2 separate regions of the Homo sapiens genome follow, and region 1 is linked to region 2. The links come from fine-mapping of genetic effects on gene expression. Tissue or cell type: whole blood. Region 2 holds a variant in brackets; the other region holds the start of a gene. All regions are shown on one strand. Distances are between the middles of the regions.

What was found. PIP is the estimated chance that this variant, and not a neighbour inherited with it, causes the effect.
Region 1: it holds the start of ETHE1, and the variant in region 2 is fine-mapped to the expression of ETHE1 in whole blood (TOPMed, PIP above 0.99).

The regions. Positions count from the first base shown.
Region 1 is chr19:43,523,842-43,531,942 of GRCh38, forward strand. It overlaps ETHE1 (ETHE1 persulfide dioxygenase), which reads right to left and starts at 3,360. Exons shown (of 7, transcript NM_014297.5): 1 at 3,256-3,360; 2 at 2,674-2,818; 3 at 2,360-2,508. The coding sequence starts at 3,336. It also overlaps a transcript of ZNF575 not described here. RefSeq lists silencers at 1,812-1,971, 3,322-3,511, 7,314-7,485 and enhancers at 2,006-2,511, 2,512-3,016, 2,532-2,711.
Region 2 is chr19:43,401,336-43,409,436 of GRCh38, forward strand. It overlaps a transcript of TEX101 not described here and the pseudogene LOC110467528. Among named protein-coding and RNA genes, the nearest start is that of TEX101, 9.5 kb to the right of the region's middle. The variant A/C (reference allele first, on the strand shown) is at 3,142.

The DNA of each region.
Region 1 (8,101 bases), 120 kb after region 2:
AGCAGAATCGCTTGCGCTCAGGAGGCAGAGGCTGCAGTGAACTGAGAGCTTGCCATTGCACTCCAGCCTGGGTGACAGAGCAAGACTGTCTCAAAAAAATAAATAAAAATGTGCCTGGGCGCAGTGGCTCATGCCTGTAATCCCAACACTTTGGGAGGCCAGGGCGCGCGGATCACCTGAGATAGGGAGTTGGAGACCAGCCTGACCAATACGGAGAAACCCCGTCTCTACTAAAAATACAAAATTAGCTAGGCATGGTGGCGCATGCCTGTAATCCCAGCTACTCGGGAGGCTGAGGTTGCGCTAAGCTGAGATAGCGCCATTGCACTCCAGCCTGCGCAACAAGAGCAAAACTCCATCTCAAATAAATAAATAAATAAATAAAACAAAAAAATTTGCTGGGCTTGGTGGCGCACGCCTGTAATCCCTGCTATTTGGGAGGCTGAAACAAGAGAATCACTTGAACCCGGGAGGTGGAGGTTGCAGTAAACCAAGATCGCACCACTGCACTCTAGCTTGGGCAACAAAGTGAGACCCTGTCTCAAATTAAAAAAAAAAAAAAAAAAAAGTTGCCTAAGGCTGAGGGGGGAAAAGGGAAGGATAGGGGTGATGGCTAAGGGGTGTGGGGTCTTTTTGGAGTAATGGAAACATTTTCCAATTAATGGTAGTAATGGATGTACAACTCTGAATATACTAAAAGTCATTGAATTGTGCACTCGAAATAGATAAATTATATGGTATGTGGGTTATATCAATAAAGCTATTAAGCCTGGGCAACATAGTGAGATTACAGCTCAACAAAAAATTAAAAAATTAGCCAGGTATGGTGGCAGGTGCTTGTAGTCCCAGCTACTTAGGAGGCTGAGGCATGAGGATCACCTGAGCCCAGAAGGTCAAGGCTGCAGTAAGCTATGATCCCACCATTGCACTCCAGCCTGGGTGACAGAGCAAGACCTTTTCTCAAAAACAAACAAACAAACAACAACAACAAAAAAGGGTGGGTGCAGTGGCTCATGCCTGTAATCCCAGCACTTTCAGAAGCCCTGTAATCCTAGCACTTTAGGAGGCCAAGGTAGGAGGATCACTTGTGCCCAGTAGTTCAAGACCAGCCTGGGCAACATAACAAAACCCTGTCTCTACAAGAACATACACAAATCAGCCAGGCGTGCTGGTGCATGCCTGTGGTCCCAGCTACCAGGGAGGCTAAGGTGGGAGGATCACCTGAGCCTGGGAGGTCAAGGCTGACTGCACTCCAGCCTAGGTGACAGAGACCCAGTCTCAAATAAAAAAAAAAAAGAAAGAAAGAAAGAAAGAAAAAAAAAAAACACTGAAGCTAAATCTACCATAGCTAAACCCTTCGTTCATTTCAAGACATGTTTGTTAGCACCTATTATGTACAATGTACATACATGTACAATGCATTTTTGCCTGCTTCCAGAGAAAGGCTTGAAATAAAGCTTCTGTAACCATTGTAGCTGAACTCTCTTCCCACACACAGCCCTCATTTCCTCTAAACACTCTGACTCAAATGAACTGTCCCTATTTGGCAAAACTCTCTAACCTGGAGGCTGTCTTCTGTCACCTGACATTCTGTCCCCAAAGTCAGCCAAACTTTATTATACATCTTTAGCAATTGATCAGAAGAATGCCCTGCCAGCTGTTTCCCTCTCTCTGAGGGCAACTCCCCTGGCCCTCCCTCCTTCGGCCTGGTTGCAATTCTGGCCGGAAACCCGCTGGTGCCTGTGGCAAATAAAGTGAGGAAGGCAGGAACCTTTAGACTTCCCAGTGTGAGGCAACGGCAGGGCTAGGACTAGGGTGAGGCTGTTGGTGCAAGATTTAAGGAGGCGCTCACTCACAGGTGCGGACCCTGCACTTACAGGACCCTGAGAGCGAGTGCCTCCTTAAATGTTGCACTCCAGGGTCCTCACCGTCCTTTTCCTAGTCCTGGGCTCCGGGTTCTAAGCACCCAGATGCTCCTTCCTCAAACGGAGGTTTCCGCAAGACAGGACTGGGTCTCTTTCCTTCTCAGCCCTGCCCTCAGAATTCCAGCCCCTAATCAACTTTTATGGAGATGCATGCCAGGCCAAAGGGCTGCCCCTAAGCTTTAGGAAGGAAACTCCTTAAATGCTGTTGACTTAGGAGTTCCGCCAGTGCCCCACCTGCCCAGAGCCTCTTGCCCCAGTGCCCCACCTGGGTTTATGGTGCCCCCCTCCCAGAAATATGAGCTCAGGGGTCAGAAACCCAGGTCCTGAGGTCCCTCCTCCCCAAGGACTCAGGATCCCAGGCCCCCAGTCCCCTCTTCCCTTAAGTTTAAGAAGTCCAGGCCACCACCCTCTTGGGGACCCAGCACCCAACTCACGAAGCGCCCGAAGCGGATGGAGTCTCCATCCTCAATGTGTAAGTCAGCCTGGGCCCCACTAAGGCGGGAGATGACAGACTGGCAGCCAGGGAGGAGGGAACGGAGCAGCCCCGAGCCTGTAATGTGGTCCGCGTGGCAGTGGGTATTCACTGGGAGAGAGAGGAGGGACAGGTCCGGAGGGTACAGAAAGGACCTGGGAGTCCCAGCCCAGATCCTTCTCCCTCAGACTCAGGAGTTCTGGGCCCCAGCTTCCCATTCCACTGACGCTGCAGCCCAGCCCCGCTGGGATCCATGAGTTTGGTCCCCGGACTGACCAGCATAGAGCAGCCGCAGCCCCAGCTCCTTGATCAGCTGGGCATCCCGAGGCGCTGTTTCCAGGACTGGGTCGATCAGAACGGCCTCCCGGGACTCTCTGTCACCCAGCAGGTACGTGAAGGTGCAGCTCACAGGCTCGAACATCTGGGAACGGGGGACCCAGGTGAGGGCGCAGAACCGGACTTCCACCCACTGGAGGCCAAGTAGTCCAGACTGACCCTATCCTCTTCCTAAGATCCAGAAGCAGAAACCCCAGCCCACTCTTTCCCCGGGAGTCGGGAGTCCGGAGCCCCACTACCTTCCCCTATCAGAACAAAAGAGTTCCAACTTCCTAACATCCCAAAATCAGGGTCCCCAGCACGTTCTTTCATAGAGGACCCAGGGGTCTGGCCCCAAGCCCAGAGGCCCCCAGACCACTCACCTTTAAAGGACCCAAGAGTCCAGCCCTAAACCTCCACCCCGCTTTCCGCAAGATGCAGGCGTGGGTCCCCCCGGATCTCTCCCTATTAAGAGACCCCGGAGTTCCGTCCTTGCTGCCGCCTAGTGCCCAGCAGTCCCCTCCTAGGTCCAGCCACCCGCACCTGCCGCAGGAGGATGGGGGCTCCAGACCCGCCGCGCTGGCTCAGCTGCCGCCGGGCGACCCTCAGTACAGCCTCCGCCATCGCGCCCACTGCGGGGTCAGGAATGAGCGGAGGCCGAGCGCCTGCAGGAGCCGGGCGCTACGGCACTGACCCCGGGAAGGGCGGGGCGGGGGCGGAGCACGCCTTAAAGGGGCCACGGACGCCTGGGGCAGAGGGCGGGGGACCGCCGAGCGGGACTGGGGCGAGGGCGAGACCGAGGAAAGCCAGAGTGCAATGCCTGGACGCTTTGAGACCCAGAAAAAACAGAGAACAGGGAGACACTCAAAGTGCGAGGGACAGACGCTCAGAGACACACAGACATACTCATGTAGGAACAGAGATAGGGAGAGAAGTAGAAACCCAGGGAGAGGCCCCAGTACACTCATAGCCTCGGGGCCGTTTTTTTTCCTTTTTCTTTTGTTTTATTTTGAGACAGAGTCTCGCTCTGTCACGCAGGCTTGAGTGCAGTGACTCGATCTCAGCTTACTACAGCCTTAAACTCCCGGGTTCAAGCGATCCTCCAACCTCAGCCTCCCGAGTAGCTGGGACTATGGCACGTTGCCACCACACCCGACATTTTATATATATATATTTATATCTATATATATATTTATATACATATATATATATACACACACACACACACATACATGTATATAAAATTTGTTTTTTGCAGAGACGGAGTTCTCACTATGTTGCCCAGGCTGATCTCGAACTCCTGAGCTCAAGCGTTCCTCCCACCTTGTCCTCCCAAAGTGCTGGGATTACAGACGTGAGCCACCGCGTCCCGTGGGGCCGTTTTCTAGCAGGTGGTAGGATAGTCATGGTTAGAAAAAGATGTTCGGTTCCGGGAGGCAGAGGTTGCAGTGAGTAGAGATGACGCCACTGCACTCCAGCCTGGGCGACAGAGGGAGACTCTGTCTCAAAAAAAAAAGATATTCGTTCGGTTCCAGGTCATTAATATCTTGAGGGACTTTTGAGTGGGTGCCTGGTTACCAGAACAACACTTGATCCCATTAAAGTTCATCCAGAAATTGCATAAGCATTTTATCAGGAATGTTTCTCTCTTTCCAGGAAGAAATCTTAAAAAAAAAAAAAAAGATAATTTTGCATTATCTCTTGAATAATCAGATTGGGGATTATTCATCTTCTGTTGGGGTGTGAACCTCTGAAAAGAGCTTGTGTTCATTTACACCAAGGACCTGGGGCTGAAAAACTGTAGTCTCAAGTCATGAGCTGTCAGAAAGTCTGCTCTTTGTAATCGTAGCAGTAGTGAGAATAGGACATCCCACTCTCATCTGGAGGATCTATGTCACTTTGTGACATCAGAGCAGCCTTGATTTCCAGCCTAGGGGCAGAGCTTTTTTTTTTTTTTTTAATTGTTAGAATTTTTTTTGTAGAAACAGGGGTCTTGCTATGTTGCCTAGGCTGGTCTCCAGCTCCTGGCCTCAAATGGTCCTCCCACCTGGGCCTCCCAAAATGCTGGGATTACAGGTATGAACCACTGAGTTATCCTGTCCCACAGCTTCTGAGGAGGGGTTTCCTGCAACAACATTTATCTTAATTCTGGAGTTTCCAGGGAATGGTCCCTGGAGCTATTTTCAGAGCAGCCCCTGTGTGAATGCCTTTACACAGAGAAGGCCTGCTTTTCCTTAAGCCTATCAAATTGCTTCATTAAAATTTTATGTGGCCGGCTGGGCGCGGTGGCTCATGCCTGTAATCCCAGCACTTTGGGAGGCTGAGGCGGGCGGATCACGAGGTCAGGAGTTCAAGACCAGCCTGACCAACATGGTGAAACACCATCTCTACTAAAAATATAAAAATTAGCTGGGTGTGGTGGTGCACACCTGTTATCCCAGCTACTCAGGAGGCTGAGGCAGGAGAATTGCCTGAACTCGGGAGGTGGAGGTTGCAGTGAGCTGAGATCGTGCCACTGCATTCCAGCCTGGGTGATGGAGACTCCATCTCAAAAAAAAAAAAAAAAAAAAAAAAAAAGCATATGGCTGAGCTCATGCACAGGCACTTTGAGCACTTTGGGAGGCCTAGGTGGGCAGATCACTTGAGGTCAAGAGTTTGAGACAGCCTGGCCAACATGGTAAAACCCCATCTCTACTGAAAAAAATAAAATAAAATACAAAAAAATTATCTGGGCGTGGTGGGGCACGCCTGTAGACCCAGCTACTTGGGAAGCTGAGGCATGAGAATCATTTGAACCCAAGAGGCAGAGGTTGCAGAGTTTGCAGTGATCCAAGATTGCACCTCTGCAACATAGCAAAACCCTGTCTGGGCAACAGAGCGAGAGTGTCTAAAAAAAAAAGGCCAGGTGCGGTGGCTCACGCCTGTAATCCCAGCACTTTGGGAGGCCAAGGCGGGTGGATCACGAGGTCAGGAGATTGAGACCATCCTGGCTAACACGGTGAAACCCCGTCTCTACTCAAAAAAAATACAAAAAATTAGCCGGGCATGGTGGCGGATGCCTGTAGTCCCAGCTACTCTCGAGGCTGAGGCAGAAGAATGGCGTGAACCCGGGAGGCGGAGCTTGCAGTGAGCCGGGATCGTGCCACTGCACTCCAGCCTGGACGACAGAGCGAGACTCCGTCTCAAAAAAAAAAAAAATTCCAGGCATGAGGTCTCATGCATGCCTGACTCAAGCTAGACAAAGCTGAGGACCCAGAGGTGACTCAGTCTGGCTGGTAGGCGAGAGAGGTAGGGAAAGCAGGTCTGAGACACAGGGAGGTGTAGGGATTTGGGGAACTCAGGGGAGGGAGGAGCCAGGGAAAGGAAGACCCTCAGGCACTCCTTACTGAGAGGGTCCCCCAAATAAGAACTTCTCGCCCCTGGCACCCTTTCCCGTTGTTTTTGCAGAATTTCTAGACCATTTATGTGTCCTTTGAAGACACACCCTAGGCAGGGTTTATAGGCTCAGCTGTGAGATGTTCTAAGAGTTAGACTTGGCTTCACCCTTCTCAGGTGTAGGACCTTGGGCTGAAAACTTATCTTCTTCTGGGTTCCAGTTTTCTTATCTACAAAATGAGGTTGAAAATAGTTCAATAGCCTGACATAGCACAGGCTCTCAATGGGAACTGCCCATCATTATTTTGTCACTATCCTTGACTCCTTCCTACCCTTGCCACCTCCACCCACTTCCAGGCCCTGCTGAGTTAAACTCTCTCTCTTTTTTTTTTTTTTTTTTTTTGAGATGGAGTCTTGCTCTGTTGCCCAGGCTAGAGTGCGGTGGTGCAATCTCAGCTCACTGCAACCTCCGCCTCCTGGGTTCCAGAGATTCTTCTGCCCCAGCCTCCCAAGTAGCTGGGATTACAGGTGCACACCACCACACCCAGCTAATTTTTGTAGTTTTAGTAAAGATGGGGTTTCACCATGTTGGCCAGGCTGGTCTGGAACTCCTGACCCCAAGTAATCCACCTGCCTCAGCCTCCCAAAGTGCTGGGATTACAGGGCCGAGCCACCGTGCCCAGCCAGATTTAACCTATCTTAACCAGGCCACTTTTCTGTTATCACACCCTCTGCCCCATTCAAGGGGCAGCAAAGCATAAATGCAAATTGCCTGGACTGCAGGGCCAGGCTGAGGGATTCAAATCCTGGCTCTGATACTTCCTGGCTGGGATGACCTTCCCCTCCACACTTCATTTTCCTCCTCTGTACAAGGATGATAGTAGCACCTCCTCTTAAAACATTGCTATGGGGATTAAATAAATTAATGCACATAAGGACAGTTTCCAGTGTATAATAAGTGCTAGCAATTAATACTGTAATTAATATATAACAATACCCTCACTGGTCTTCTGGCTTCTACTCTGCCTTCTTAAAATCATGGTTCTTGAAAATAGCTGTGGCCCTAGAGGTTGGGCGCGGTGGCTCACACCTGAAATCCCAGCACCATGGGAGGCCGAAGTGGGCGGATCACCTGAGGTCAGGAGTTTGAGACCAGCCTGGCCAACATGGTGAAACTCCATCTTTACCAAAAATACAAAAAAAAAAAAAAAAATTAGCCAGGCGTGGTGACGGGCACCTGTAATCCCAGCTACTCAGGACGTTGAAGCAGGAGAATCACTTGAACCTGGGAGGTGGAGGTTACAGTGGGCTGATATCTCGCCACTGCACACCAGCTTGGGTGACAGAGCAAGACTCCGTGCAAAAAAAGAAAGAGGTGGGCACAGTGGCTCACCCCTGTAATCCCAGCACTTTGGGAGGCCAAGACGGGTGGATCACGAGGTCAGGAGATCGAGACCAGCCTGGCCAACATGGTGAAACCCTGTCTCTACTAAAAATACAAAAATTAGCTGGGTGTTGTGGTGAACACCTGTAATCCCAGCTACTTGGGAGGCTGAAGCAGGAGAATCGCTTGAACTCGGGAGGCAGAGGTTGCAGTGAGCCAAGATTGCGCCACTGCACTCCAGCCTGGGGGACACAGCGAGATTCCATCTCAAAAAAAAGAGAGAGAGAGAGACCGAAGTGTCACTTCAAACTAATACAATGTGTGGAGCTCATTTAGATCTTAAGTCAAGCAAATCAAGTGTAATAAAAAGATATTTATGAGATATGATGTTTGACATTTAGCTTCAGAATCATTTGGGAAGAGTGGATGGGGGGTAAATCAAACAATACTGGTCATGAGTGAATAATTATTTTAAAAACTTTTTTTTTAAAGATACGGGGTATCACTCTGTTGCGCAGGCTGGAATGCAGTAACACAATCATAGCTCATTGCAGACATGAACTCCTGGGTGAGTCCCCACTCCCTACCCCCGTGAAATAGCTGGGACTACAGGCTGCCATTAAGCCAGAC
Region 2 (8,101 bases):
GTCAATTAACAAACCTATACAGTCCTCACAGAGTCACACACTCTAGTTCCAATTCCTCCTTTTAGGCACAAGCAAGTTGTCACATTCTTTGTAATGGTTCACTTTGACCATTAATGGTATTGAACAACAGCAGCAAGTTTAAATACCCTTTCATTTACAGAACCATCCATCCCATCAGGGAAATATGCAACATGCTTCAAAGAATAAGAAGAGAACTTTGGGCCAGGTGCGTGGCTGAGGGCCGGGAGTGGTGGCTTGCGCCTATAATCCCAGAATTTTGGGAGGCCAAGGCAGGCAGATCTGAGGTTGGGAGTTCGAGACCAACCTGACCAACATGGAGAAACTCTGTCTCTACTAAAAATACAAAATCAGCCGGGTGTGGTAGCAAATGCCTGTAATCCCAGCTACTCAGGAGGCTGAGGCAGGAGAATAGCTTGAACCCGGGAGGCGGTAAGCTGGAGATTGTGCCATTGCACTCCAGCCTGGGCAACAACAGCAAAACTCTGTCTCAAAAAAAAAAAAGAGAAAACTTAAAAGCCCAGATTCTACTCATAAAAATACGAATGGAGAAAAGCAAGTAGTGTCTGTGCAACACAGTGCAGTATATTGTACAGAATATTTTTAAGGCCACGGCAGTCTATGAATTAAAACTGGTATTCATTAAAAGAACTTACTGTAGACTAAACTCTGAGTGCTCAACACGTTTGGAAATGCAGTCTACATAAGTGCTGCTTAACAAAAGAAAAAATCACACGCAGTGTGAGGCAACACATAAGCGGGTGTCCCATAGTGTTTAAGCTACTACAGTGGTCTATATGAATAATAATTTACAACTGAACCAGTATGAATATGTCCCTTTATGTATACAGAAGTCACTAAACTACAAAACATGTTCATTTGAAGTTTTTAGACATCTCTGTATCATAGAAGCAAACGAACAGCATCAGTTCCTCAGTTCTCTGTGTGATTGATTATTAACCTGTAGATGTTGAACATGATTACATTAGATTAAGCAGGCAGGTCTAGAGTTGTCACAATAATCAAGATGTCTAATGGCACCAGTCAAAAGAGTGCCAAACCTTACATCAATAAAAGAGAAAAATAAAATTTTGTATTTGTTTATAAGTATCTTTTGTGCTGAAAGTCAACTTTATGGCTGGATGTAAAAAGTCGGGAATTACAGTGTCATGCAGCAGCACTGGTTTAATGACTGGAGATAGAACAAACAGATGTTTGAACTAAATCTGACTTTTTTTTTTTTTTGAGATGGAGTCTCACTCTGTCGCCCAGGCTGGACTACAGTGGCACAATCTCGGTTCACTGCAAGCTCCGCCTCCTGGGTTCACGCCATTCTCCTGCCTCAGCCTCCTGAGTAGCTGGGACTACAGGCGCCCGCCACCACAGCCGGCTAATTTTTTTGTATTTTTTAGTAGAGACGGGGTTTCACCGTGTTAGCCAGGATGGTCTCGATCTCCTGACCTCGTGATCCGCCTGCCTTGGCCTCCCAAAGTGCTGGGATTACAGGTATGAGCCACCGCGTCCAGCCTAAATCTGACATTCTTAACAGTTTTTATTATATTGGGTGGAATGCTCTAAATTCATGAAAGCTTTTGAGAAAATCTTCAATTCTTAACCCCTTAAAAAAGTATGCTGAACCAGAAAGAAAAAACAAAAGATAGAAATAATGATCTGGACAGATGCAAAACAGCATGCGTTAGTTCCTCCCATATCCCAACTGCCATCTGGCGATAAAGAGTTCTCAGAAAGCAGAATGTCTTTAATATCCCTCAGGTAGGATCTCACCAGTGTAAAGAATCAACATTGATCTGGTGCCTCCACTCACTCTCTGTGGACCGTATTGGATTCCTAAGATGTAATTATACATTTCACATGCATTTGTGAGATAAGATAAACATTATGTTTACATATATCCCACCTGAGTCATTCAGGCTTAAAGGTTTTCTAAATACTGTGTGCGGCACTAGAAACTTCATGCTGTATCAGTGAATTATCACAAGGACAGAAAACCAAACACCACATGTTCTCACTCATAGGTGGGAATTGAACAATGAGAACACTTGGACACCGGGGCCTGTCTTGGAGTTGGGGGCTGGGGGAGGGATAGCATTAGGAGAAATACCTAATGTAAATGACAAGCTCATGGGTGCAGCAAACCAGCATGGCACATGTATACCTATGTATCAAACCTGCACGTTGTGCACATGTACCCTAGAACTTAAAGTATAATAATAATTTAAAAAAGGAAATACCAATATTATTAGCCTTTAACCCTAATTCAGAATAAACTAAATGTTCTAATTGATTTTAAAAAAAAAAAGGAAAAAGAAAAAGAAACTTCATGCTGTATCAAGTCAATGTCAGTATTAAGCTACTGGACTCTATGAAATATTATAGATAGACATTTACTGAAAACCAATATAAAAATCTGGCCCACAAAGACCAGAATGGAAATATCCAATTTTCTTGATTTAAGATGGTCAAAACCATCCTGGCTAACACAATGAAACCCTGTCTCTACTAAAAATGCAAAAAATTAGCCGGGCATGGTGGCGGGCACCTGTAGTCCCAGCTACTCGGGAGGCTGAGGCAGGAGAATGGCATGAAGCCAGGAGGTGGAGCGTGCAGTGAGCCAAGATCACGCCACTGCACTCCAGCCTGGGCAACAGAGTGAGACTCTGGCTCAAAAAAAAAAAGATGGTCAAAAGTGTGTGGGTTTTTTTTTTTTTTTTTGGAAAAAAAAAAAGCTCTACACATGATTTAAGACAGGTATGTGTAAGAAGCCTTTTTGTGTGTGCTGGCTTTATCACGACAACTCTGGCTGATTCTTTATGAAGGATTAGGGATACTCATCTTCAGCAGTGCACGTGAGAAGTAAACTCTGAAAAAGGCAATTTCTTGGGTTTAGGAAGGACTGTATTCTGGGAATTACTTCAGAGGAATGGGCAATAATTCTAGGATTATACCCAAGAAGGACTGGAAGCCTTCAGGAGATGCTTCAGCTTCTTCTAGATTTTGAATGCTCAATAAGCCACTGAAATGTGATATCTATATTATATTACATATGTTTATGTATTAGCATTTCACCCCTCTTTGGAAAGGGATAGCATTTTAATATATAAT[A/C]TACTACAATTTGTTTGTTATCTTCCAACCTTTTATTTTGAAAGTTTTCAAGCCCATAGAAAAGGTGGAAGAATTGTACAATGAACCCCTTATATATTTCACCAAGATTCACCAATTGTTAACATTTTGCCACATTTGCTTGATTGATTTTTTAATTTTTTTCTATCAATCTAGATACATGTGTATGTATGTGTGTGCGTGTATCCTAATTATTTGCCTGTGTATACACAGAAAGAAAGAATGAAAAATATACATAATAATAAATTATATATATGTTAGGTGAATATATAAATATATATATACTTAAGTTGTGTGCACTTTACTCTGTTTTTTATGTCATAATTTAAAATTTTAAAATATATAAGAAATAAATAAGCCTGAAACAAAGGTATTTTCAGCAAAATAAAAATAGAGACACTTCATCAACAGCTGATTCCCACTGAGACATATATTTCAGAAAGGAGAGAACTGATCACAGATAGAAGGTATGGGACGCAAAAAGTAATGAAGAGAAAAGAAAGTGGCAAATACACGTTAAAATGTAAATGTACTTGGTATAAATAGTGCTAATGATATCTAGTGGGATTATACAAAGATACACTAAAAATTCCCTGCAAGGTTAGTTAGTATGTAATTCAGGGTGAGTAGGCAAATTGGTGAAGCTAAGTAAATCTAAGGTCATTTTATTATTCAGGAAAAAGGCAAAGGTTTAAATTGACTTTAGACTTTGATAAATGAATTATGCGTGCTGGAATTTCTAGCCTATTTCCCAAACAAAGATTATCAGAGTGGATTAGGAAGGCAAGATCTGGCCTGGTGTGGTGGCTCACACCTGTAATCCCAGCACTTTGGGGGGCCGAGGTGGGTGGATCACCTGAGGTCAGGAGTTGTCTACCAGCCTGGCCAACATAGTGAATATAATGAAACCCCATCTCTACTAAAAATACAAAAATTAGCCTGGCGAGGTGGCACATCTCTGTAATCCCAGGTACTTGGGAGCCTGAGGCAGGCTTGAACCTGGGAGGCAGAAGTTGCAGTGAGCCAAGACCATGACAAGAACAAAACTCTGTCTCAAAAAAAAAAAAAAAAAAAAAAAAAAGAGGCAAAGACAAAGACAAGATCCAATAATAAATTATTTATTTAAAAACACATCTAAAATGGAAGGAGGTTGGGTGCGGTGACTCACGCCTGTAATCCCAGCATTTTGGGAGGCCAAGGCAGGTGGATCACTGGAAGTCAGGAGTTTGAGACCAGCCTGACCAACATGGTGAAACCCCGTCTCTAGAAAAATTAGCTGGGCGTGGTGGCATGTGCTGTAATCCCAGCTATTCGGGAGACTGAGGCAGGAGAACTGCTTGAACCCAGGAGGCGGAGGTTGCAGTGAGCTGAGATCGTGCCAGTGCAATCCAGCCTGGGGGACCCAGCAAGACTCCATCTCAAAAAAATACGATAAAATAAAATGGAAGGATACACAATTGTTGACTATAAAAGGATGGGAAAAGATATTTCATGTAATAAGAAAGCCAGCATATAAGAGGCAGGAGGATCACTTGAGGCCAGGAGTTTGAGACCAGCCCGGACAACATAAGGAGACCCTGTCTCTACAAAAAAAAAAAAAAAAAAAAGCCAGATGCCTGGCTCACGCCTGTAATCCTAGCACTTTGGGAGGCACCTTGGGACTGTTGAATTAAAACAAAACACAGCTTAGGCTGCTGTGGGTATTGACGACTTGTGATTTCTGTGCAGGGCACTGAATGTCAAAGTGAAGGAATTCAATGAAGCCCGGATCAAGGGCAGGAGCAACCGTGACCCTCTTAAAAGAGCCAATGCCCCATGTAATTAGTGACGCGCGCGAATGGATAGACGCTATTCCCACCGTCCCTACATAGCATCCAGCGACACCACAGCCAAGGGACAGGCTTGGCGGAACCTGCGGGAGAGAAGAACCCTCTGAGCCTGATTGAAAGGCGGTGAAGAGACAGGAGAGGGGGATCGGTGGGCGGTCCCGCCTCCATCTTCAGTTCCCGCATGGGGGCGAGGCAGGTACATGGGCCTTGCGGGCTGTGGGTGAAATTCCATTATTAATTGTTTTTTCACTAACCTGGTGGGGGAGTCGGGCGCGAGTTTCGAGAGAGACTCTGGCTTCTGGCGCCAAGCCTTAGCCAAGCTCACCAGGGGCAGCGCTAGATGGGGAGACTGGGACACACGTCTGAACGCAGATGTCCGAAGGGAGCGCAGGAAGACAGAAGCCTCCCGTTGGGCAGGAGGGCAAAAGCTCCTGGGTCTTGGATTTGCAACAGGAGTTCAGACGGTGAAAGCAGGGCCTCAGGATCCTTCTGACCTTTTGAGTTTTAAACAAGGGGTGTCAGAAAAGTCGTCACAGGGATAACTGATTTGCAGCAGGAAAGCATTCATAGGAATGAGGCTTCTTTTTGTTTTTTGTCTTTGTTTTTTGTTTTTTTTTTTTTTTTTGACAGGGTCTCATTCTGTGGCACAGGCTGGAGTGCAGTGGTGCCACCATTGCTCACTGCGCTATGTGAGCTATGTGATCGGCGCTTAAGTGATACTCTCGCCTCAGCCTCCAAAATAAATGGGACCGCAGGCCTGAGCCACCATGTCCTGTGGCTTTTTAATCCTTTTGATCCTTGGATGTGGGCTCTTCCTATCATTGGAAGACAGAATTCACCAAGGTTGGGATGTTCACCCACTCAGAAAACCTGAGCTGGGGCTGGGGCTGTGGCTCACGCCTATAATCCCAGCACTTTGGTAGGCCAAGGCGGGCGAATCACCTGAGGTTGGAAGTTCGAGGCCAGCCTGGCCAACATGGTGAAACCCCCATCTCTACTGAAAATACAAAAATTAGCCGGGCGTGGTGGCGCATGCCTGTAATCCCAGCTACTCGGGAGGCTGAGGCAGGAGAATCACTTGAACCAGGGAGGCAGAGGTTGCAGTGAGCTGAGACGGTGTCACTGCACTCCAGCCTGGGCAACAAGAGCGAAACTTCGTCAAAAAAAAAAAAAAGGAAGAAAGAAGAAAAGGAAAGAAAAGAAAGCCGGAGCTGGGATTAGACCATGTGAGACAGGTTGATTTCACGCTAGTGAGCATGCGTGGTTGCCATGGTGCTCTTGCCCAGTACCACAGGTCCCCAGGTTCAGACGTTTGGTGCCTGTGCTTGGATGAGGGACCACTGGGCTAAGCTGCCATCCGTGGGATGCTGACTAAAGGCCTCCAAGTCAGAATATGCCCAGGCAGAACTATAGGGCAGCGCCATGAAGCCTCGGCTGGCCTGGGATAGCCGGTCGTCGCCAACAGGACGCAGTGCAGCAGGGTTGAGGCCCCATGCGGAGAGCTCATTGTCTTGGGAAACCGGCAGTGGGAAGGGTGGCCGGCCCCTCGCCCTTCACGCAAGGCCCATTCGTGGGGAACCTGGCGCTAAACCATCCCTAGAGGAGCTGCTTCTGGGTCCGAGTTTTCTCTGCAGCAGAGTGGCTCCCTGGATGGGATCTGTTGAAAGTTAGCCCTCCACACAGGCGTGTGTCCGCTTCGCAGCGTGTGTGCAGAGCCATCAATCCTTCCTTCCTCAATCCCGGGGGTCTCCCGCGTCCCCATACCCCCACCCCGGCCTCTGGTATGGGAACCAGTGACGTCTCTCCCGTGAGCCTGCCCGAGCCCGCAATGCCCTCAGGAGGCGCCCGCCCCGCCCTCTGGGCTTTCCGAGGGCTGCAAGGAACATGCGCTTCCGGGGGTGGAGAGGCGGTGAGGGCCGCCCCCGCAGCGTCCTGTTTGGGAGCCAGGTCTTCTCCTCGTTCTGCCCGGGCTCGACCAGGGGCTAGATCGGGGTTCGGGGAGCGAACAAGGCACGTCGGAGGGTGGCCCGGTGGCCCCTATTCGAGGGGTGGCTGTGGGCCAGGAGGTAGCGGTGGCGGCGGCCTCGCCTGTGGCCATCTGAGCCGTGGGCCGGTAGGCGGGGAGGAGAAGAGGGTCCGGCCGGTCACCGCCCTTGCACGCCTCCTCCTCTTAAAAATAAATAAATAAATAAATGGCGAGTTGGGGGTGGACAGGGATGTTTTAGTGCTGTGCGTGCGTTCTGGAGCCACACCACCCTCTAGAACCAGGGCCACAACCACCCGTGACGCCCACCGTGAGAAGTGCCCTCTCCCAGAAGGGCCTGCACCAGAGACCTTGGTCTTTGTTCTTTTTGGAGAGATCTGTGCAGATCGAGGTCACTCCAGCCCTGGATTCAGGGAGGGCTGCACTATCAGAGAAAGACAGCTTCAGCGAGGCCTCACAGTGAGTCAGACCAGACTCTTCCCATCCCCAAGATCCCTGGACTATGGGGCATCATCCTGGGATCCCTAAGGTCACATGGGAAACTTCTCAAGCACCGATGCTGCCATCTGATACTGTGGCCTGATCCCACCCCTGGACACCTGGAAATTCTCATGAACCCGTGGAGGCCTGGTGCTACCTGAAACTGTGACCTCATTCTACTTCCAACTCACAAGTTGAAGCGTAGATTTACATGCAGTCAAATCAATAATTAGATTAATTGGCTGACTAAAGGAAAAACTTCAGACACGTTAAATTTAACACAGTTTAATTGAGTAATGAATGATGCATTAATCAGGTAGCCCCCAGACCCAGAGTAGGTTCAGAGAAACTTCAGGGTGTTCCGTCCATAAATGGTTGGATAACATCTACCGCAGAAGAAAGTGATGTAGAAGAAACTAAGGAAGGCACTGAAATAGCTGGACTGCTAACAGTTGGGTGCTTGCCTTATTTGAACCAGGTTTGAACAGTTAGTTGGGTACCTGTGATTGGCTGAGACTCAGCTATTTTTACTATAGCAGGTTACAGACTGTTTACACATCAAGTTAGGTTACAGTTCACTATGTATGGAGAAACCATTAGACCAAACTTAAAGTAGTAGGGAGGCAGCTTTAGACCTAACAATGTTAAC